Linked DNA regions of Homo sapiens. The protein of the gene in region 5 purifies or fractionates together with the protein of the main gene of each other region. This does not show direct contact. Each region holds a gene or a part of one and is shown on either strand. Other genes may lie near its edges. The genes, in order: KLHL22, OBSL1, MON1B, KLHL13, ARHGEF35 and TYMS.

The links.
Region 1: the proteins of ARHGEF35 (region 5) and KLHL22 purify together in Homo sapiens (co-immunoprecipitation; one large-scale study listed by IntAct). This does not show direct contact.
Region 2: the proteins of ARHGEF35 (region 5) and OBSL1 purify together in Homo sapiens (co-immunoprecipitation; 3 studies listed by BioGRID and IntAct, with this or other methods). This does not show direct contact.
Region 3: the proteins of ARHGEF35 (region 5) and MON1B purify together in Homo sapiens (co-immunoprecipitation; one large-scale study listed by IntAct). This does not show direct contact.
Region 4: the proteins of ARHGEF35 (region 5) and KLHL13 purify together in Homo sapiens (co-immunoprecipitation; one large-scale study listed by IntAct). This does not show direct contact.
Region 6: the proteins of ARHGEF35 (region 5) and TYMS purify together in Homo sapiens (affinity purification with mass spectrometry; one large-scale study listed by BioGRID and IntAct). This does not show direct contact.

What each region holds. Positions count from the first base shown.
Region 1 is NC_000022.11:20,464,796-20,468,295, forward strand, and holds part of KLHL22 (kelch-like protein 22), read right to left. Parts: intron 782-3,500; coding exon 63-781; intron 1-62. UniProt on the Homo sapiens protein: Substrate-specific adapter of a BCR (BTB-CUL3-RBX1) E3 ubiquitin ligase complex required for chromosome alignment and localization of PLK1 at kinetochores.
Region 2 is NC_000002.12:219,554,540-219,558,039, forward strand, and holds part of OBSL1 (obscurin-like protein 1 isoform 1 precursor), read right to left. Parts: coding exon 3,284-3,500; intron 3,080-3,283; coding exon 2,804-3,079; intron 2,185-2,803; coding exon 1,915-2,184; intron 1,754-1,914; coding exon 1,481-1,753; coding exon of another isoform or gene 1,458-1,480; exon of another isoform or gene 610-1,457; intron 202-609; coding exon 1-201. UniProt on the Homo sapiens protein: Core component of the 3M complex, a complex required to regulate microtubule dynamics and genome integrity. It is unclear how the 3M complex regulates microtubules, it could act by controlling the level of a microtubule stabilizer.
Region 3 is NC_000016.10:77,197,690-77,201,189, reverse strand, and holds part of MON1B (vacuolar fusion protein MON1 homolog B), read right to left. Parts: intron 3,083-3,500; coding exon 2,882-3,082; 3' UTR 1,739-2,881; coding exon of another isoform or gene 1,678-1,738; 3' UTR 1-1,677. Other genes in the region: SYCE1L (synaptonemal complex central element protein 1-like), read right to left, coding at 1,678-1,738.
Region 4 is NC_000023.11:117,917,811-117,921,310, forward strand, and holds part of KLHL13 (kelch-like protein 13), read right to left. Parts: intron 2,561-3,500; coding exon 2,428-2,560; intron 1,908-2,427; coding exon 1,711-1,907; intron 1-1,710. UniProt on the Homo sapiens protein: Substrate-specific adapter of a BCR (BTB-CUL3-RBX1) E3 ubiquitin-protein ligase complex required for mitotic progression and cytokinesis.
Region 5 is NC_000007.14:144,193,034-144,197,031, forward strand, and holds the start of ARHGEF35 (rho guanine nucleotide exchange factor 35), read right to left. Parts: upstream 2,801-3,998; 5' UTR 2,505-2,800; exon of another isoform or gene 2,288-2,504; intron 1-2,287.
Region 6 is NC_000018.10:664,153-667,652, forward strand, and holds part of TYMS (thymidylate synthase), read left to right. Parts: coding exon of another isoform or gene 1-1,124; exon of another isoform or gene 1,125-2,244; intron 2,245-2,684; exon of another isoform or gene 2,685-3,500. Other genes in the region: ENOSF1 (mitochondrial enolase superfamily member 1), read right to left, coding at 1-1,124. UniProt on the Homo sapiens protein: Catalyzes the reductive methylation of 2'-deoxyuridine 5'-monophosphate (dUMP) to thymidine 5'-monophosphate (dTMP), using the cosubstrate, 5,10- methylenetetrahydrofolate (CH2H4folate) as a 1-carbon donor and reductant and contributes to the de novo mitochondrial thymidylate biosynthesis pathway.

The DNA.
Region 1 (3,500 bases), on a different chromosome or scaffold from region 5:
CCATGACTTCCACACCCTCTCATCACCTGAAGACAAAGGGACCAGCTAGCACCCTGTCCTACCTCCAGCATCGGGACTCTGCTCGAAATCCTTGGACATTGTTGTCCCCTCCAATCAAGTATACGAAGTTGTTGAGCACCGCGATGCCCTGGTTGGACATGCGGGGGGCCAGGGAGGCAGTGAAGTGCTTCCACTCTCCCAGTAAGGGGTTTAGATACTTGGCCTGGTCGCTGAGGACAGTGGACGGCGTGGAGTGAATGCCCCCGAAGCCCACAACGCACTGGAAGTCCGACCGCAGCTCCGTTTGCGGGCTCTGCAGGCTGGGCTGTAGGCTCTCGTTCCGGTGGTACATGAGGGCGCTGGCCACTGTGTCCCTCAAAGGGCTGGGGTCCAGCTTGTCATGCAGCCGCTGCAGGACCTCAGCTTCCATCAGCGGAAACCGCACTGTCTCAAGGAGCTTTGGGGGCTCGTGCAGCGAGATCTGGTCAGCCTGCACCTGCTCCAGGCTATAATGGTAGAGAAGGGCCCCCTCATATACCTCGGTCTCGCAGGAGACCTCCAGGCGATTGCTGCTGAGGAGGGAGTAGACCTTCTCCAATGGAAGCTGGCGGTACTTGTCAGTCCGAGAGAAGGCCACAAAGTTTTTGAGGATATAGGTGTCCAGTTGCTCAGTCAGGCGGCTCAAGTCAAACAGCTCTGCCAGCCGGTAGACATCGAGAATGTTCTCTTCGTCCACCCAGGACATGAGGAAATCACAGCAGAAATGGATAATTTCTGGGATCTGCAGAGAGAATGACACCCATTCAAGCCTGGGCTGGTGAACAGCATCTGGGGGTGGGAGAGAGAATGATGGCAGAAATACGGGCTGTTGTGGGCCAGGCAAAGCAGAAGGGAAGTCCTCCTTAATTGTCCCCGACCTTTTCTGACACACTGGAGACTGGGGCTTACTGCAGACTAGGTTTAAGTCCTGGTTTGGAAACATACTGGGTGACAGGATATACAGCATGTTTTTTTTTGGTTTTGTTTTGCTTTTCTTTGAGACAAAGTTTCGCTCTTGTTGCCCAGAATGGAGTGCAGTGGCAGAATCTCGGCTCACTAACACCTCCCCCTCCCGGGTTGAAATGATTCTCCTGCCTCAGCCTCCCGTACAGAATGTTTTTAACCTCTCTAAGCCTCAGTCTCCTCATCTATAAAACGGGGATCATTAAAGTGAAGAGGAACATGATGAAAATGAGAGAGCACATAGGAGTGGACCCTTGATATATGTCAGTTCCCTCTTAGATCAAAAGTACTGGCTCGGCCGGGTGCGGTGGCTCATGCCTATAATCCCAGCACTTTGGGAGGACAAGGTGGGTGTATCACGAGGTCAGGAGTTTGAGACCAGCCTGACCAACATGGTGAAACACCGTCTCTACTAGAAATACAAAAATTAGCTGGGCGTGGTGGCGCGCGCCTGTAATCCCAGCTACTCAGGAGGCTGAGGCAGGAGAATCGCTGGAACCCAGGAGGCGGAGGTTGCAGTGAGCCGAGATCGCGCCATTGCACTCCAACCTGGGTGACAGAGCGAGACTCCGTCTAAAAAAAAAAAAAAAAAAAAAAAAAGAAGTACTGGCTCTCCAGAAAAGCAGGAAGCAGCACAAATGGTCACTGTGTCATATATCTGTGGTTTGGAAAGGACCTAAGACCATCCCCATCCCTACCCTAGGATTCTCTGGAAGAGCCTGCCTCTCCAAAAGCGCTGGGACCAGAAACAAACCTGGCTTTTTCCCCCGCCAGAACATCCACCCTGGTTCCCTAGAAGTGCTCAGAGCCTCTCAGACACCTAACCAATACCCACCCAGGAACCTGATTTAGAATTATTTTTCTTTTTTCTTTTTAAAATTTGAGACAGGGTCTTGCTCTGTTGCCCAGGCTGCAGTGCCATGGCAAGATCATAGCTCACCGAAGTCTCAAGCTTCTGGGCTCAAGTGATCCCTGACTCAGGGTTCTTGAGGTTCCCAGCTGGGTCAAGACCCACTTGACTCCAGTAAGTGCAGGGGCTCCCAGGTGGCCATATCAACCCTTCCCAGCCATGGGGAAGCACTAGTGGTTTGAAAGGACGGCAAGAGAGAGAATGACACTGGAGGGAGGTGGGAACAAGGCCACAACCAGCAGGCTGTTAAAGGCCACCCTGTGAACAGACAACCAAATCTTGGGAGAATAGGAGACAAAGGGAAGGGCCCTAGGGAAAACTGCCTGGGAGAACAAACCAGGTGTTGATAAATTATTTAGGAAAGCAGGATTTTAGAGTTTCAGTGGGGCCCCCCAGTGCCCACCTCCTTTCTTTCCATGTTCAGATTGAAAATGACGAGTACCTTGACCTCTCTGTGACCCAGACAGCTGCAGGTTCTCCCAGCAGGCTTGAACCCAAACCAGGCCCTTGAACATTCCCAGGCACTGATAAAGGCATCAAGGTTGTTACCCAAAACACTGAAGGAAAAACTGGTTCTGGCCCTGAGACAAATTCCTTAAACCCTCATAGAAACTCCATACACTAACCCACTCTGTGGGCAAGCCTGGGTAAAGCCTCTCTTTTCCCTTGTCTGTCTTGAGGACATGCTACATCACTCTATACATAAGTTCCCCTAATAAACGCTCTGGCCAGATCACCCTGGTGTTTGATGCTTCTTTCTTTGGAATCCCAAAACGGCTCCATTTCAGGATGCTGTGGGGTCCCCTCTTGTGGGAACCCCCTTGCTACCAACTCCAGCCATGTGTTCAATGCAATAAATCAGTTTCTCTAAAAATGGGAATACCTGGCTTATCCAGGATCATCAATAAATTAACCATTACACATGGAATAATTCTGCTGGTATTTATGTATTTATTTATTTATTATTTTGAGATGGGGTCTCACTCTGTTGCCCAGGCTGGAGTGCAGTGGCACGATCTCGGCTCACTGCAAGCTCCGCCTCCCGGGTTCACGCCATTCTCCCACCTCAGCCTCCCAAGTAGCTGGGACAACAGACGCCCGCCACCACGCCCGGCTAATTTTTTGTATTTTTAGTAGAGACGGGGTTTCATCGTGTTAGCCAGGATGGTCTCGATCTCCTGACCTCGTGATCTGCCCGCCTAGGCCTCCCAAAGTGCTGGGATTACAGGCGTGAGCCACGGCGCCCGGCCAAGGTATTTAAAGCTTATCAATAAACACTAACTATAACTTTTTTAAAATTCAAAAGACATCTAATATTGCTTGCAAGGTGACATGCTAAGAGCTGGATGAGACCTACCAAATGTCAGGCAGGTATGTGCCCTACATGAGGTATCCCCATGGTGCTTTGCTAGGCCCTGACCAGCTTCACTTGACCTTCTTTTTTCCCTTTTTGCCAGTCTTCTGCTTTGCCACTTCTTCCCAAACTACTAGGTTTTCCTAAAATTCTGGTTTGTCATGGGCCAGGGTCCTGAAGACCAAGTTTTGGGCAGAATGTGAGCACAAACAGCCCTGAAGAAGCCTGGGCAGC
Region 2 (3,500 bases), on a different chromosome or scaffold from region 5:
CCAGGCCCAGGCCATTGAGTACCAGTCGGTGACGGTGGCCGTCCGAGTGGATGTGACACTTGGGTCCTGGATACAGCTGTACTCCACCCCGGGCCCACTCCCCGGTCACACCTTCCTGGGACAGCTCCAGCTGGAAGGTGGCACTGCCCCCCTCACTGATGGTCACGTCCTCCAGAGGCCGCAGCACCCTCAGCTGCCTCGCTGGCCGGGGGAGATGGAGAGAGGGAGGATGAGGCCTCCAGCTCTGGGCAGGGGTTGCAGTCAATCCTCATCCCTTGGCCCTGCCTACACCCCTGAACACCCAACCTAAGGTCCTGACCAAAAAAGTTCGGAACCAGGGTGCAGGAAGAAAGGAGCACGGTGGACAGATTTGGCGGGGGGAGGGCTGTATCAGGGTTAGGAGATGAGGGCACAGGAAGGGGGAGAAGTGTGGTTAGGGGGTCGTGGAGTCTGGGTGAGGGGTGCTGTGACACTTGAAGGAGCACGGAATTTGGAGTCAGACACACTAGGAATGGAACCTCGCTCTACCACATAGTTTGTGTGCTATGTGATCTTTGGCAAATGGCCTGACCTCTCTGGACCCCAGTTGCCCCAGCTGTACAAGGTGAATAACATTGGGACACAGGTTTATTGTGATGATTTCTTGAATGAAATAAGTTAGAAGAGATGTGTCACAAATGACAACCATTCACCAAGCTCTGTGTAAGAATTTTCATGTTATCTCAGTTAATGTTCCCAGAGACACTTGAGACGGGGATCAACCCCATTTTTAAAATTTGAGACAGGGTCTTGCTGTCACCCAGGCTGGAATGCCGTGACATGATCATAGCTCACTATAGCCTCAACCTCCTGGGTTCAAGCAATCCTTCTGCCTCAGCCTCCCTAGTAACTACCATGCCCGGCTAATTTTTATTTTTTTTTGTGGAGATGGGTTCTTGCTATGTTGCCCAGGATGGCCTCGAACTCCTGGCCTCAAGGGATCCTCCTGCCTTGGCCTCCCAAAGTGTTAGGATTATAGGCGTGAGCCACTGCACCTGGTCTCAGCCCCATTTTTAAGGAGACTTGGCTCAAAGAGGTTAACTTGCATGAGGTCACATAGGAAACAGAGGGCTCCAGCTTTGGGTGGGAGGTGTGGGGTGCTGTTTGACAGCCATCCCTGCTACTTAAGTGGGTATGTGTATCCCTAGAATACATGCCTGAAGGATGCCCATGGCAAGTCTTTCTGGAGAATATTTGTGTTTATAGCAAAGCCGACTTGGAAATATGCAATGGAATGCAAAATCCACATGGACTTCTAAGGTAAATAAAAAATATTAGAAAAAGAAAAGTTTTGCTTTGGGCAAGCTGCTGCTGGGACGGCCATGGGTGACTTTTCTCAGCGATGAGGGGCACTTTGGTGGGGGCCTGAGGGACTCCAGGACAGCCAGAAAAGGCTGTGGTGTAGGGTGGGTAATGCATTAAGAGAGGACGGGGCACTCACGCCTCACGCTGAGCCTGGCCAGGGTGCGATCGTGGTGGCTCTCGCAGCCGTAGGTGCCCTGGTCGGCCAGTATGACACCATGGATGAAGAGGCGGTGGATGTGCCCATCCTGGGCCATGGACAGGCGAGAGTCGTGGGGCAGGGGCTGCCCACCTCGCACCCAGCGCACGGCCCCCGCTGCACCCACTCGGCCTGTCTCCACTTCGAGACACACATCCTGGCCTTCCTCTGCCCGCACATCCTGCAACCGCCGTAGGAACAGCAGCTCTGTCTCTGGTGGGGAAGAAGGAGGCCATGGAGTCTGGTGGGGTTGGAGGCTGGCCCCTTGCTCCATCCCACTGGTCTGTCCCTAGGTGGAGAGGCAAGGCTGCTGGAATCCTGGTTGGGAGTACAGGCACGGGACACAGAGTATCTCATCCTCATCAGGACCTAACCTCGAACATGGAGCCGGGCACTTGTGGCCGTGCTCCCTGCCCGCAAAGTCACGGTCCCTGCATCCCCCAGTTGGCAGCCTCGCAAGGTTAAGATGCGGCTTGAACCATTCTGGGCCATCTCCACCTGGGGCCCTGGAGTGACGACGGCCCCATTGCGCAGCCAGGTGACATCGGCATCTGGTGGGGAGACTTCACACCGGAACGTGGCATCATCGCCCTCGTGGACAGTGAGTGGTGTCAGCTCCGAGACCAGCTTCACCAGCAGTGGCTCTAAGGGGCACGGTAAGGCAGTGAGCTGGGCTGAGTCTTTTCTTCTCTCTCCTTTTCATCCCCTCCTCAGGATGCAGGCCCTCGTCCCCAGTCATTTAACAGACCTTCTGTGAGGACCTACTATGTATCGACCACACCGATGGCCCAAAGGACAAGATGCCAGCTCCCTGCCACTCCTTTTAGTCAGTTCCTCATAATCCTAGCCTAGCACCCCACCTTGGTGGCACCCTAATAATATCAATTACCAGGGACCCTATTTACAGCATTTACTTGTCACAACAGGCCTATAAGAAAAGCACTATCCCCTCTTTTCAGAGCCGGGGCTCAGACAGGTTGAACAACTTGGCCAATGTCACACAGCTACTGGGGCACAGAATCTAGGCTGGAACCTGGCTGGGTGGACTCTAGAGCCCCTGCTTTTAACCACTGGTTTATGCTGCTCTCAACATGAGGGTTTCTGGAAAGAGGAGCCCTGAGCCCCTATCCAAGTGATGGTCATGCACGCACTGGTTGGAGCCAGAAGCAGCAAAGCGGGGGTGGAGGAGTAAGGGGGCCCTAGAAAGTGGCAGATGGTCCTTGGGGTGCCACAGCCCACAGGGTGTGAGGGGTACACTGTTACCTTCCACGCTGACAAGGAAGATGCGGCTGTCCTGGGGCGCATCGCACAGGTACTCCCCAGCGTCCCCGCTCCGTGCCCCCTGCACCCGCAGCACCTGCCTGGCCCCGGCCTGCTCCAGCTGCACCCGCCCCTGGCTTGCCAGTCGCTCCCCGTCCTTGTACCAGCGTACAGGGCCCCCTGGCCCGGAGAGGTGCACCACCAGCTCTAGGTCCCCGCCTGGGGTGCTCCGAACCCTCGTCTGGGCTGCCTCGGGAGCTACCACCCGCACAGGGGGCTCTGTGGAGTCAGAGCTGGAGGTCACTGGGAGGGAGAGGCTCAGGGCTTTGAGGAGGGCACGGGGAGGCATGACGGGGAAGGTACTGAGAGAAGTGGGGCCAGGGATGGGCAAGGCATGCTGGAAAAGCAGGAATCCCGCAGAGTTTGGGGTGCCACTCTCAGGCTTGGTGCCACTCTCAGGCTTAATGCCCAGGCTGTACTCACCAGCCACCTGGACGGTGAAGCTGAGGCTTGGGGCTCCGGGGGCTGCTCCAGACTGGCAGGTGTAGAGCCCTGCATGGGCTGGGCCTGCAGCCTGGATGCAGAGGACTCGGCGGGGGCCCTCGGCATGGAGCTCTAGGCCCTCGCCCTCCTGCACGGGCCTCCCATTGTGGCTCCAGACCACGGGGGCGCCAGCCCGGGACAGTTCACAGCTCAGCAC
Region 3 (3,500 bases), on a different chromosome or scaffold from region 5:
TGAAGTTATTTCATTGGTCACACATTAAAAAATTACTGAGCACTTACTTTACACCAAGCAGGCATTGTTTTAGGTGCAGGGGAGCGAGAGGTAAACAGTCTCTGTTCTCATGGAGCTCACATCCTAGGTCAGGCAATAAGCAATAATCATTACTTTGATGTCTGTATGGGTAGGTCTGGCAGGATGCAGTCTAATGTGTTTGTTAATACAGTGGTTTAAAGAGTGTGCAGAAAGGGGTGTTCGAGATAGATAAAAGTGGGGCAGAAAGGTGACAACAGTTAAAGCATACTGATAGGTACACATGGGCTTTGTTTAAAGCTATTTTCTCTACGTTGGTACACTTTGAATATTTCTATAACAAAAAAATGCTAGTGGCATACAAATGCATGACTGCCTTGGGAGATTTTTTTCTTTTTGTTTTTTCTTTTTTTTTTTTTTTTTTTGCTCACTCTGTCTTCCGCGCTGGAGTGCAGTGGCGCAATGTCAGCTCACGATAACCTCTGCCTCCCGGGTTCAAGCAATTCCCCTGCCTCAGCCTCCCCAGTAGCTGGGACTACAGGCGCCCGCCACCACACCCGGACAATTTTTGTATTTTTAGTAGAGACGAGGTTTCGCCATGCTGGCCAGGCTGGTCTCAAACTCCTGACCTCAGGTGACCCACCCGCCTCGGCCTTCCAAAGTGCTGGGATTACAGGCATAAGCCACCAAGCCCGGCCAAGGGAGAATTTTTTTTCTTTTGAGACGGAGTCTCACTCTGTCACCCAGGCTGGAGTGCAGTGACATGATCTCGGCTCACTGCAACCTCCGCCTCTCGGGTTCAAGTGATTCTCCTGCCTCAGCTTCCTGAGTAGCTGCGATTACAGGCCCACACCACCGCGCCCGGCTGATTAGTGTGTGTATATATATATATATATACACATATATATATATATACACATATACATATATATATATATACACACACATACATACATACATATAAATACACATACACACATATGTATATGTATATATAGTTTTTTAGTAGAGATGGTGTTTCACCATGTTGGTCAGGCTGGCCTCGAACTCCTAACCTCGTGATCCGCCCGCCTCGGCCTCCCAAAGTGCTGGGATTACAGGCGTGAGCCTCCGTGCCCGGCCTGAGATTTTTTTTTCTTTTGGATGGAATACAATTTCCAATAGTGTCTAGGCCGACACCCCTCCACCCTCCTTTGCCTGTCATTCAAGTCAATACCCTGGAGAAAAGAGGCTGTGGGGGAGGCCATGTTCGATTAGGAGGTTTAAGAGTCCATCAAAGTGTCATATGTGTTAGGTGTGAAATGGCGACACTGGGAATTACTGTTAATAAGGGGTGGCTGCAGCACGGTGATTGTTATGAGAACATCCCCACCGCCCCACTTTTGTTTGAAGACTTTCGTACTGAACTACATGTTGTTTACTTTCAACAACGTATACACTACAGTTGACAAAAGTTAATCTCGGTGATAAGAATATGCCTGTTAATTTATCTCCACTGTGCTGAACGGTTAAAAAATTGTTTTTCTTCAATAACAAAAGGCTTAACATTTTATTTAAAAAAATTAGAATATCATTATTTCATTATTGTAATGGGACGAATCCTCCCTCCTTTCTGCCCTGGTTGGAGAGAAAGGAGTGCAGCCCACTTGCCCTCACTACCTTCAGCCTCCTCAGTAGCTTCTGGCGCCTCCACATTCAGAGGTTTCAGCTTCCCCGCCATTTTCCAACGCGGGGCCTGCGCGCGAGCCTCGCTTGATGACTGGTTAAAAAAGAAACCACGTGAGGGTGAAAGGCTTTTCAGCACGCATGCGTGCAACCCGCGGTTACGCCAGCGGTTAAATCAGGAGTCAGCTCTGGGCAGGCGCAGAACACACTGCGGCCCTGATTGCCAGCACACATGCTACAACCTTGAGGCTGTAACTCCACAAACAAGGGCAGAACTAGGGTAATGGCCAGTTGGGGAGTGAGGGTAGTGTGCACACACACAAAACCCTAGGGAGGTCTCTCCTGCTTTAGGCTGCTTGTCTTGTGCAGGTTGTCAAAGTCTGGGACAGACGTGCATGTGCTATGTGGTGGTACACAATAGTTCGAGTCTGTTTTCGTTTACAAATCCTCATCAAAGAGTTCATGAGAGAGGGTTACTTATCTCTGTTTCACAGATGAGTAAAACGAGGCTTAGAGGCTAAGTGCATCTCCTATGTAAAAATGCTGGATTTCAGCCACTGTGTGCAGTCAGGTGCTGTGTCCTGGGTTCCACAGGTGGACACTGAAGGCCACCTTCTCATTAATGTTAGCAGCAGCCAGCATTGAGGGCGGGTCATTTCTGGCAGGGTAAAGATGAAAAAAGTACAAGAAGGGCAAAGGAATATCCTTGTGGGTCTTACTTTTAGGCCTTTTATGTAGTTTTTTTCTTTAAAATACCCTCAGGCCAGTCCCAAGCATAGCCTGGCCCTGAAGTGCCAATTCCAGCACCCCCGTGGGCCACCCTAGACACCTTGGCCAGATCTGGACACTCAGGGCTGAGATTCAACTAGGAGGCAGACCACGGAAGCAAGTTTGGAGGGGACAGTCCCTGACAGAGGCTAGAGCATCATCCAAGTGGAGGAGATGAGACAGAGGGAAGGGAGAGGGAGGCCTAAGGATTTCCCCAGAGGGGGAGGTGCATGACTGGGCAGGGAAAGCAGCCTGCTCGCCTGGCGGCTGCCACCATCTCTCTCATCGGTGGGCCCTCAGACCTTGCCCCATTGCTTAGGGAGACAATGACTGGCCACAGACACACCCCCACACACATTTCCAGGGTAGACAGAAGGTAAAAAACAAAGGTGGTTGCTCCCAGCACTGCCTGGTCTGGGAGCTCCAACTATCAGAGTCCAGTGAACAAGCCATTATGGGCAGCTTGGTCCGTAGAGGTGGCTGGTGGTGTGGAGTACTTGGGTGGGTAACGAATGAAGAGCCGGTCCTCCTCTTTCTTCACCCAGCGCAGGAGTTTGGTCACTACCAAGATTGCACCTGCCTTGGTCACCAGAGGGCTGAGGCAGGTATAGAGCTCGAATTTGGAGGTCACCTGGGGGTTTCGGAGGAGACAGAGTCAGATGGGCCAGAGCTGGCTATGGACAATCCTGCCTACCCCAGTGCAGCTGCATGTCTGCCTCCTGCAACCTGGAACATGTACCTGGCAGCACCTCCTACCAGGTGCTGCCTAGATACTGGGCTAAGGTAGGTAAGCTGATATTGTGCAATTTCAGCTGGACCTAGTGACTTCAACTGGATGATGCTGGTTGTGTGTGTGGGTACTCTCTAGACCTGTTTGCTCATTGGGAACTGGGGAAAACAGTAACAATGTTTAATATTCTGTCAGTAACCTATTGTGTACAAGGTCCTGCTCTAAGCTCCTACAACTATGTTTTCATCATCTACAGCCAGGGAATAATATAAAGAGGAACTCAATTTATGCCTCATACCACATGGAGAGGCCTGACCCC
Region 4 (3,500 bases), on a different chromosome or scaffold from region 5:
TTTCCTTAATTTGGCTCAGGATGACCATGTGTTGCTAAGATCAGTGTAAAGCAATGTTAAGAGTCTATAAGTACAAGCTTTAAGTGTTACTACTAAATTAAATTCTGGACTTGAGGCATTTTGAAAATCACATTCAATATGATTCATTTTTCCTTGAAATGAAGTTGTTATATCATGCCAGTGACACAACCAGAGGTGAGATCCTAATAGCTCTTGAGGGAATGGGCCTTGCATGATCAAATTTAAATAAAATTTAGCACCTAAATTCAGTAATGGAGGCAAGCAATAGCATGGGAATTAACCAACTTCACTTGGGCTACTTTCGCAATAAAGAAGACAATACAAGTCAACAATATAGCACCATGCTGCCATAAAAACCCTTAAAAGTAGCAATTAGTTCAAATTTTATAAGTAATTGTGAGACAGCAGTCTGAGTTTTCTAAAATCAAACATACAAAAAACACACTTTCAATAGGCCAGTTAAATTAGTTATTGGCTGACTTTTAAGATAGTTAAGTACCTTAATAATAAAATAATTAAGGACATGGCTCTCTTGAAACTTAGTGTTTTAAAGAAGGTTCCATGTTCAAAAAATGTAAGTTGTAAAGATCTAACAGCAATTATTTACCTATATTAAGATTCATATGAGTTAAAAAATTATAGAAAACATATCCATCAACATAATGAGTTAGAAAATATACCAAAAATTAATATTGCCAGAATTCTTAATCAGAAAAACAAGCTCCAAGACCTCTGGAAGTCTTGGCAATATTTCTGTCCAATGTAGCCATTTATCTCCCCAGAAGTAAAATTTAAAGGTCTCAACTAAAATAAAACACTCTCTTCAGGAACTGGGTGACTATCATTAAGTACTCCATCGATTGGTAGTTGTATGTGTCCTATCTTATCTATTAAAAAATGGCTAAACACTATTCAGTAGGTGATATGTTTCTATGGAATCAAGACTTACATTCTTACAGGTTTGCCCATAGGTATTAGTTCTTCTTAAGATCTAGCTCCCTTATTAAAAGAAGAAATTTTAAAGAGTTCTAGAAGCTCAGATTACTTTTCCATTCAATTACATTTAAGAAGCCTGCTTGTATAGTCATTAAGGTGAATAAAACCAGATTATGGTACATACCATTATCAAACAGTTAAAGTATATATCTTCATCAAACATTATTAGTATCTCATGTCATTTGATTACACAGAGGCTTTTTTTTTCTTCCTGAGATGGAGTCTCACTCTTGTTGCCCAGGCTGGAGTGCAATGGCGTGATCTCAGTTCGCCACAACCTCCACCTCCCAGGTTCAAGCGATTCTCCTGCCTCAGCCTCCCAAGTAGCTGGAATTACAGGCATGCACCACCATGCACAGCTAATTTTTGTATTTTTAGTAGAGACGGGCTTTCTCCATGTTGGTCAGGCTGGTCTTGAACTCCCAACCTTAGACGATCTGCCCGCCTCGGCCTCCCAAAGTGCTGGGATTACAGGCGTGAGCCACGATGCCCGGCCAACACAGAGGCTTTTATTAAATGATTCTATTTCATAAAAATGCACCTGTTTCAATCTCACCTTGCTTACAGACCACATACAACAAGACACATCTGTCTAATGGCAAGTTTCACATTCCTGCACAGCAGATTTCATGAGTCCTAAACAGGCTACATCAGAGTCTACCACAGGAAAAATCAGATTTCAAAATATCTTACCCCAGATATGAGAAACACTTTACAGAAGTCCAAAACTGGCAGAATCTGTAGGAAACTGGCAGCTTCCAGCGTGTCTTGAAGGTTGTCCATATTAAGAGAAAGCTTTGCAGTATAAATGAAATCAATAATTTTCCTTAGACCGACTTTGCTCACACCATGAAGTTTAATGCACATTAAATCTTGTTCTTTCATTCCACCTTAAATAAAAAGACATTCAATTAAATGAAGGTGGATAATTATGGTCAAACTCACTTCTGCTGCTAATTAGATGCAATAAAATCAAAGGAAAGTCTTATCTTATATAAGCAGTCATATTAGAGTCAGTCTGCTGCACATTTTACTGTTAAAAGAAAGTACTTAAAAAAGATAATCTCTATACTAATGGAGGTCATATATGATGCAAGTGCTTCCAAAATGTTCTCACTTCCTATTTTTTGACATAGAGTAGAGATTGTACTAGGAGGACACAGAGTCTCTGATGGCCCACTAGATATAAGCTTGAAAAAGAAAAGCTGTGAGATAAAGATGGACAGTATGAAAAAAGTGCATCAATTTTCCATGTTAAAACAGCACCACCGAAAACCATACATACTGTTGTGTACTTCTTTTGAAGCTGTTTCCAAAAGAACCAAATTTCATGTTAGAAATAAAAAAGATTTAAACACGGATTTTTCATATTGTTTTAATGTGGTTTCAGAGTTTTAAAAGGCAAACTACCTGTGAACATAGCCTTGAAGTAATCACTAGCAGATGCCATCATGACTCTATGCACAGGGAAAGCATCATCTGTGTCACCTGGCATCAGGGTCACATCACAAAGCAATCCTTCAAGTCGAAGCTGGTCAAAGCCCTACAACAAGAACATGAGTTGAGTCACTAATCAAGGTAAAATGAGGTTACAAATCTTCGTGTGCTAAAATTGTTTGAATATTAATGTGGTGCAACATATGTGGAACATAAAGCCAACAGAATATTCGGGAGAAGAAAAAATAACTGCACAACTTTCCTGATATGTGACAATGCATGTTTTCTTTCACTGTAGGAATAACACAAAATTAAGACTAATTTAGGTTAAAAACGATTAAGGAAAAAGTATATACTTTTGCTTATTTACACAATTATCAGCTTTTACCTTATTTTGAAAAATAATTACAATGTGCACTTCTACTTTCCCATCTGCAGAATGAGAGTATTAGACTGTCTTAACATTCCTTTTCGCGATAATTTAATAGTCCTTTTATAGTGCTTGACTGAAGCATCTTGGTTTTGTTTTGTTTTGGGGGAGGTTGAGAAAGAAAAGTAGAGAGCAACTGTATTAAGTACACGATAGTTCTTTCTACTAATTGTATTACTTCATCTCTTTGAGAAGCCTATACTCAGTACATTGCTGCTGCCTGGCCAAATATCTTTCAAGTTTCAAGTTTGAGACTTAATTATCTTTGTTTGAAAAAAAACAAAAAAAAGCCCAGGAAACCCCAACATGAGACTTAATTGTCTCCAAATGCCTAAAGGTTTAGTGGAGAATTAACAGGCTAGCAGCCACAATTCAGAGGAGTGACAGAGCTCTGGTGAGAAGAATCCTTGTTGATTAGCTTTTTCACTACACCCTGATGGTCTCAACTAACGACAAATAGACAGTTGTTCTATTGATATAAGTTGGAAGAATGACAATCACTTTTAAGATTATAACAGGTTGAATCTACAACATACACATATTTCAAAACATCATGTTTTTCAATTTTTATCTTTTATTTTTAATTTTTGTGGGTACAGAGATGTATGCTTTAGGG
Region 5 (3,998 bases):
TCACGTAAAGGCATCAGGAGAGAGTTTTTTGCAATGCTCATTACGTTAGAGTGCAAACATCCTCATCTCCTTCTCCACTGAGGGTGAATAATCACTGTTTATCTGTGTACAGGCAAAGCCAGGGCATGGGATTATGGGGATACGGCCTTGCTTCAGACCACAGACATTCTGCATCCACATAACCTCACCCACGTGTGACTTCTTGAGAGGCAAAGCTTCAAGTCATCCCTTTAACATAATGTGTGACAGAGCTCACTATCTTCCCTAGAGCCCCCCCACCAACACCTTAGCTCTTGTCTATTTCTAGTCACTAGAAACAACACTGTATTTCAAGGATACAACCCCTCCCCAATCAAACTGCCAAATCTTTGAACTGAGACTCAGTGCCATATATATATTTTTGAGGACCATGCTTCCTGGATTTTCTAGCAAGGTTGATTTCAAATATTCTGACTTACAAATCACTAAAATAATATTGAGGTTAAAATAAGATCACCACATAGATATATAACTTTATTCACTGTTTGACATCACTGCCCTCAATACTACAAAGATATCAAAACAGGGGTAGCTTTCTGGACCACTGACTACTACAATGTGTGTTCTATCCATTGCAGGAAAGTCCCACCATGCCAGTGAAAGCTGTAATACACATTTATCTATTCTCTAATGTCTGAAAATGTCACACCAACTGCCTTATAGACCAGATAGTTTATATAAGAACATTATTAGTGTCAATGCTGACTTACACTCTACAATCTCATCTGTGGTCCTGGTGGCATCCACACAGATAACATTAGTGTGAGTGACGTGTTTGTGTATTAACATAGACCTTGAGGGTGACTTTGTTCCAGTCTACCTTGCAGGCACTATAAGTGATCGGCTCCTGCTTACTCCACAGACACTGTGAGTGACCCAGCCCCTGTCTACACTAGAGCTGTTGGTCACCTGTTTGTCTACACCACTGACACTTGAGTAATGCTGCTCCCGTTGAACCCAAGACCCTACGAGTGACTCCATTCCTGTCCATACCACATAGCGACTGACCTCTCCAGACACCACAAATGACGTATTCCTGTCTATCCCACAGACACCACGTGTAACGTGGCCACGGAACCTCAGACAGACCGCGTTAAGGGCACTGATACACTCTCAGGACCTCTAATATATGAACACTCTTCTCTCTATTGAGAATCACTATATTCTGTTGATGAGAGGGATTCCTTTGCACTCCTCCTGATTTCTCTCTCCTCCCCACTAGGACCATGACATACATTCCTCCTGCATATCAGTCTCACCCAGAACTGACACGCCCTCATCCCATCTTCCCAGCTCCCCAGGACTCCTTCACTAGCCATGGCTTCACTTTTAGGCCCACAGATTGGTTAACAAATGACACCCATTTTGCTAAGGCCTATGCCAGGAACTTCTTCATGCTCCAAATGTGGATAAAACAAGACGTCTGAGACAGAGGCCACATCAAGAGCTTTTTAGCTGGAGCTGGGACCTCTGGATTAGGCCCAAGATGCAAGGCCAGACAGTGGAGTGCAGTAGGGGAGCAAGCTAGGGAGGAAGCTCGAAAGGAAAACCACCCTCTCTCATCTGTTTGACACACCCTTCTCTCTCAACCAGACAAGAGTCCTGGCCAGAGTTCACTTCTAGGTAGACAGGAGGGCAAATCTGTCTTTGGAACCCAAGATCCAGGAAGGGAAGAAAGGGACTGAGATCTGGAAATGACGTAGTATCACAACTGGCTCTCCTCCGGTAGTCTTGCCGGAAGGCAACTGCAAAAGATGCTCAGGGGTTCTAGAGCTCTGCGTCCGCATTCTAGCACCCCAACGCCTACCTCAGCCCCCAACTCTAAATAACTTCTTTCCACCTTGCTAAGAATGCAACGTTGTGATTCACATCAAGCTTTAGGAGGCTCCCCATATGTAGGGAACTGGGGTGAGGGGCAGGGCAGGATTCACTGTTCCAGGTTACGGAGCTTTGGTTAACACGGAGAGAAGCTACACATAGACTCACACAGTATGCAAATACCTATGGAGATACATAAGGAAAGGCCCCGGCCTGGTTAAGGAAAAGGAGCCGATAAAACCTCTCCAGGTAAGGAACAGCCTAGAAAGGGAATCTCAGTTATTCCTTCTGATATGGCTTAGCTTTCCCCAGGGCGCCTACTTTGAAGAAAGAGCCCTGATTATTGGCCCGGGGAACGTCTGGGGGCAGGGTGCCCATTTCCTAGGCGGGACCCGACCGGAAGCAAACTTGTAGGCAACAACATTTCCTCTAGTTCCTCTCCTCTTCCCCACCAGGGTCCTCAGCCACACACCCCGAGCCCTGCCTGCGGGCCCAGCCCCCCCATTTCCGGAGCCTGCGCCCCGGACCCAGCGGGGGCTGATCCCTGGGAAAGGCCTGGCTTCCTCTTCCTTCCTGTCCCTGCCCCACCTCCGCCGGGCTCCACAGCCGCCGGGAGCCCAGGGCCGAGACGGGAGGAGGGCACCCACCTGGTCGGTGTCACATGCTGCTTCGGCCCCAGCGTCCCCTCCAGGTCCCGGCGCCGGCCGCAGTCCCCAGAGCCGTCCCCAGCGCAGGCCCGGCCGCCCCACCCGCGGCCCGCCCCTGGCCGCCCGACGGGAGGGAGGGATCGGGTTCTCCTAGGAAGTTTCAGGTGAGGAAACAGGGACACACCTTCCCGGAGGAGGGGCAGGGCCCCTCCGCGCGCGAGCCCCATTGGTGTGAAAGAAGCTCCCGCGTCAGAGCTGGGAAGTGCCGGGCCGGCGGAGAGGGGAGCCCGGGCGCACGGGCCAGGCCGCGGGCTGTCCCAGGGAGCCCCGAGGGCGCGGTGCGCGGGCGCAGGTCGGGCGCAGGCGGGGTGACCCGGGGAAGGGGCGCGCACAGAGACAGAGGGAGCCAGCCGGGCCCCACGGTGTCCTCGGACGCCTCCGAAATCTCCCTGCGTGTTTGTTTCTTCGGAGCTTCACCGGAGCCTGACTCTGGAACCGGCCTGTCTGCCTGCTGCAGTCTGTATGTGTTTGTCTTTTGCCTTGGCCGTGCCTCTGGAAGTCTGACATCCGTGGTTGTACATGTGTCTTTATCTTCAGGCCTCATTGGTTTTTGGTTTGTTCGTTGTTGTTGTTGTTGTTGTTTTTTCTGAGACGGAGTCTCGCCCTGTTGCCCAGGCTGGAGTGCAATGGCGCGATCTCGGCTCACTGCAACCTCCGTCTCCGGGTTCAAGAGATTCTCCTGCCTCAGCCTCCCGAGTAGCTGGGATTACAGGTCCGCGCCACCATGCCCGGCTAATTTTTGTATTTTTTAGTAGAGGCCGGGTTTCGCCATGTTGGCCAGGCTGGTCTGGAAACTCCTGACCTCAGGTGATGCACCCGCCTCGGCCTCCCAAAGTGCTGGGATTACAGGCGTGAGCCACCGCGCCCGGCCAAGGCCTCAGTGTTGATTTCTCTTCCGTGATGTCTCCTCCTATAGAATAAAGAGTGTCTCCTCCATCTCCTCCTCCGCCCCCTTCTTCGTTTCTCTCTCTCTCTCCCTCCCTCCTCCCCCCTCCCTGTCCCTCTCCCTGCCTCTTCCTCTCCCCTCTTCCTTCTCCTACTTAGGGCCTAGAAGTGTGCCTCTCTGAAAGGACATGCCCGTGTCCTTCTGTATTCCCGAGTTTATTTTAGAATGAGTGCGTATCTCAGGGTGTATGTTCCTTCTAGGGCCTGTGTGTGTGTGTGTGTGTGTGTGTGTGTGTGTGTGTATTTAAATCTCTAAGCCCATGTTTGTGTGTTTTCTTATGCCTGTATTTTTTTTTTATTCTTTCAGGGAAACGTTTTGTTCTGTTAGTCTTGGAGGCCAAGGCTGAGTGGGTTTATCTCTGTGCCCCTCCAGTGACTTCAAAGAATGCCAAAAGTCTCTCGAGTGTGCCTGTGTGCACACACAGACACACACAAAGTAGGAATCCTTTACCTGGGGGACAGAGATTTCTGTTATTTTTGGTTGAATCT
Region 6 (3,500 bases), on a different chromosome or scaffold from region 5:
GGAATGGTCTTCCATTTCTTTGTATCCTCTTTTATTTCATTGAGCAGTGGTTTGTAGTTCTCCTTGAAGAGGTCCTTCACATCCCTTTTAAGGTGGATTCCTAGGTATTTTATTCTCTTTGAAGCAATTGTGAGTGGAAGTTCACTCATGATTTGGCTCTCTGTTTGTCTGTTATTGGTGTATAAGAATGCTTGTGATTTTTGCAGATTGATTTTATATCCTGAGACTTTGCTGAAGTTGCTTATCAGCTTAAGGAGATTTTGGGCTGAGACAATGGGGTTTTCTAGATATACAATCATGTCGTCTGCAAACAGGGACAATTTGACTTCCTCTTTTCCTAATTGAATACCCTTTATTTCCTTCTCCTGCCTAATTGCCCTGGCCAGAACTTCCAACACTATGTTGAATAGGAGTGGTGAGAGAGGGCATCCCTGTCTTGTGCCAGTTTTCAAAGGGAATGCTTCCAGTTTTTGCCCATTCAGTATGATATTGGCTGTGGGTTTGTCATAGATAGCTCTTATTATTTTGAAATATGTCCCATCAATACCTAATTTATTGAGAGTTTTTAGCATGATGTGTTGTTGAATTTTGTCAAAGGCCTTTTCTGCATCTATTGAGATAATCATGTGGTTTTTGTCTTTGGATCTGTTTATATGCTGGATTACATTTATTGATTTGTGTATATTGAACCAGCCTTGCATCCCAGGGATGAAGCCCACATGATCATGGTGGATAAGCTTTTTGATGTGCTGCTGGATTCGGTTTGCCAGTATTTTATTGAGGAATTTTGCATCAATGTTCATCAAGGATATTGGTCTAAAATTCTCTTTTTTGGTTGTGTCTCTGCCCAGCTTTGGTATCAGGATGATGCTGGCTTCATAAAATGAGTTAGGGAGGATTCCCTCTTTTTCTATTGATTGGAATAGTTTCAGAAGGAATGGTACCAGTTCCTCTTTGTACCTCTGGTAGAATTCGGCTGTGAATCCATCTGGTCCTGGACTCTTTTTGGTTGGTAAGCTATTGATTATTGCCACAATTTCAGCTCCTGTTATTGGTCTATTCAGAGATTCAACTTCTTCCTGGTTTAGTCTTGGGAGAGTGTATGTGTCAAGGAATTTATCCATTTCTTCTAGATTTTCTAGTTTATTTGCGTAGAGGTGTTTGTAGTAATCTCTGATGGTAGTTTGTATTTCTGTGGGATTGGTGGTGATATCCCCTTTATCATTTTTTATTGCGTCTATTTGATTCTTCTCTTTTTCTTTATTAGTCTTGCTAGCGGTCTATAAATTTTGTTGATCCTTTCAAAAAACCAGCTCCTGGATTCATTAATTTTTTGAAGGGTTTTTTGTGTCTCTATTTCCTTCAGTTCTGCTCTGATTTTAGTTATTTCTTGCCTTCTGCTAGCTTTTGAATGTGTTTGCTCTTGCTTTTCTAGTTCTTTTAATTGTGATGTTAGGGTGTCAATTTTGGATCTTTCCTGCTTTCTCTTGTGGGCATTTAGTGCTATAAATTTCCCTCTACACACTGCTTTGAATGTGTCCCAGAGATTCTGGTATGTTGTGTCTCTGTTCTCGTTGGTTTCAAAGAACATCTTTATTTCTGCCTTCATTTCGTTATGTACCCAGTAGTCATTCCGGAGCAGGTTGTTCAGTTTCCATGTAGTTGAGCAGTTTTGAGTGAGTTTCTTAGTTCTGAGTTCTAGTTTGATTGCACTGTGGTCTGAGAGATAGTTTGTTATAATTTCTGTTCTTTTACATTTGCTGAGGAGAGCTTTACTTCCAACTATGTGGTCAATTTTGGAATAGGTGTGGTGCGGTGCTGAAAAAAATGTATATTCTGTTGATTTGGGGTGGAGAGTTCTGTAGATGTCTATTAGGTCCGCTTAGTGCAGAGCTGAGTTCAATTCCTGGGTATCCTTGTTAACTTTCTGTCTCGTTGATCTGTCTAATGTTGACAGTGGGGTGTTAAAGTCTCCCATTATTAATGTGTGGGAGTCTAAGTCTCTTTGTAGGTCAGATGATTGGCACTTACTGGGCGCTTGGCACTTTCCATACTGTGTCATCGGCAGATAGCTGCATGGTTGGTGTTCGTGCTGGGGAATGGGAAGTTCATCGGTGGGACAAGGGACAAAATGCCCCCATTGCTTTGTTGTGGCTTTAATCTCCCTTTCGAGGCTGAGCCACAGCGTGCTGTAGGTGGCGCTGCTGTGAAGCGCAGTGCCAGGGTCACACTCCACTCCCAGCTCTGCAGAGGTGGAGAAAGAATGAAACATCTCACTCCTGGACTTCCACTTTCCTGTCACTGTTGGTGTCACCTCTTACTGGATGTCACAGAGCCCAGCCCCTCCCACCTGTCCCTAGGAAAAGCAGATGCCACCTTGGAATGTGGGGTTTGTGTGTGCAATTTACTAGCTGGGCAGAGACCAGCAACCTGGAGAGCAGGTGTCTCATCTAAGGGGACAGTCACATTTCACCTCCAGCCACCTGGAGGAATTTGGGCCTGGTGATGTCAGAATTCTTCAATAAAAGCCTAAAATCTATATTTTATGTGCGGTCATGAGATCTGTTAAATGTTAGCAACTTCAGGAAGTTTAAAAATGCTGTGTGGACCTAGAATAGGCAAGTTCTTAAAGGCAGAAAGTGGAATGCTAGTTTCCAGGGACTGGGGAACAGGGAGGAATGGGGAGTTCATGTTTAATGGGCACAGAGGTTTTGTTAGGGATGACGAAAAAGTTCGGGAGATGGTGATGGAGATGGTGATGGTGATGGAGATGGTGATGGTGATGGAGATGGTGATGGTGATGGAGATGGAGATGGTGATGGAGATGGAGATGGTGATGGTGATGGAGATGGTGATGGTGATGGAGATGGAGATGGTGATGGAGATGGTGATGGTGATGGAGATGGAGATGGTGATGGTGATGGAGATGGTGATGGTGATGGAGATGGAGATGGAGATGGTGATGGTGATGGTGATGGAGATGGTGATGGTGATGGTGATGGTGATGGAGATGGTGATGGTGATGGTGATGGTGATGGAGATGGTGATGGTGATGGTGATGGAGATGGTGATGGTGATGGAGATGGAGATGGTGATGGTGATGGTGATGGAGATGGTGATGGTGATGGGATGGTGATGGAGATGGTGATGGTGATGGTGATGGAGATGGTGATGGTGATGGAGATGGTGATGGAGATGGTGATGGTGATGGAGATGGTGATGGTGATGGTGATGGTGATGGAGATGGTGATGGTGATGGTGATGGTGATGGTGATGGAGATGGTGATGGTGATGGTGATGGTGATGATGGAGATGGTGATGGTGATGGTGATGGTGATGGTGATGGAGATGGTGATGGTGATGGTGATGGTGATGGAGATGGTGATGGTGATGGTGATGGAGATGGTGATGGTGATGGAGATGGTGATGGTGATGGTGATGGTGATGGTGATGGTGATGGAGATGGGTGATGGTGATGGTTGCCTAACATCAGGAACGTG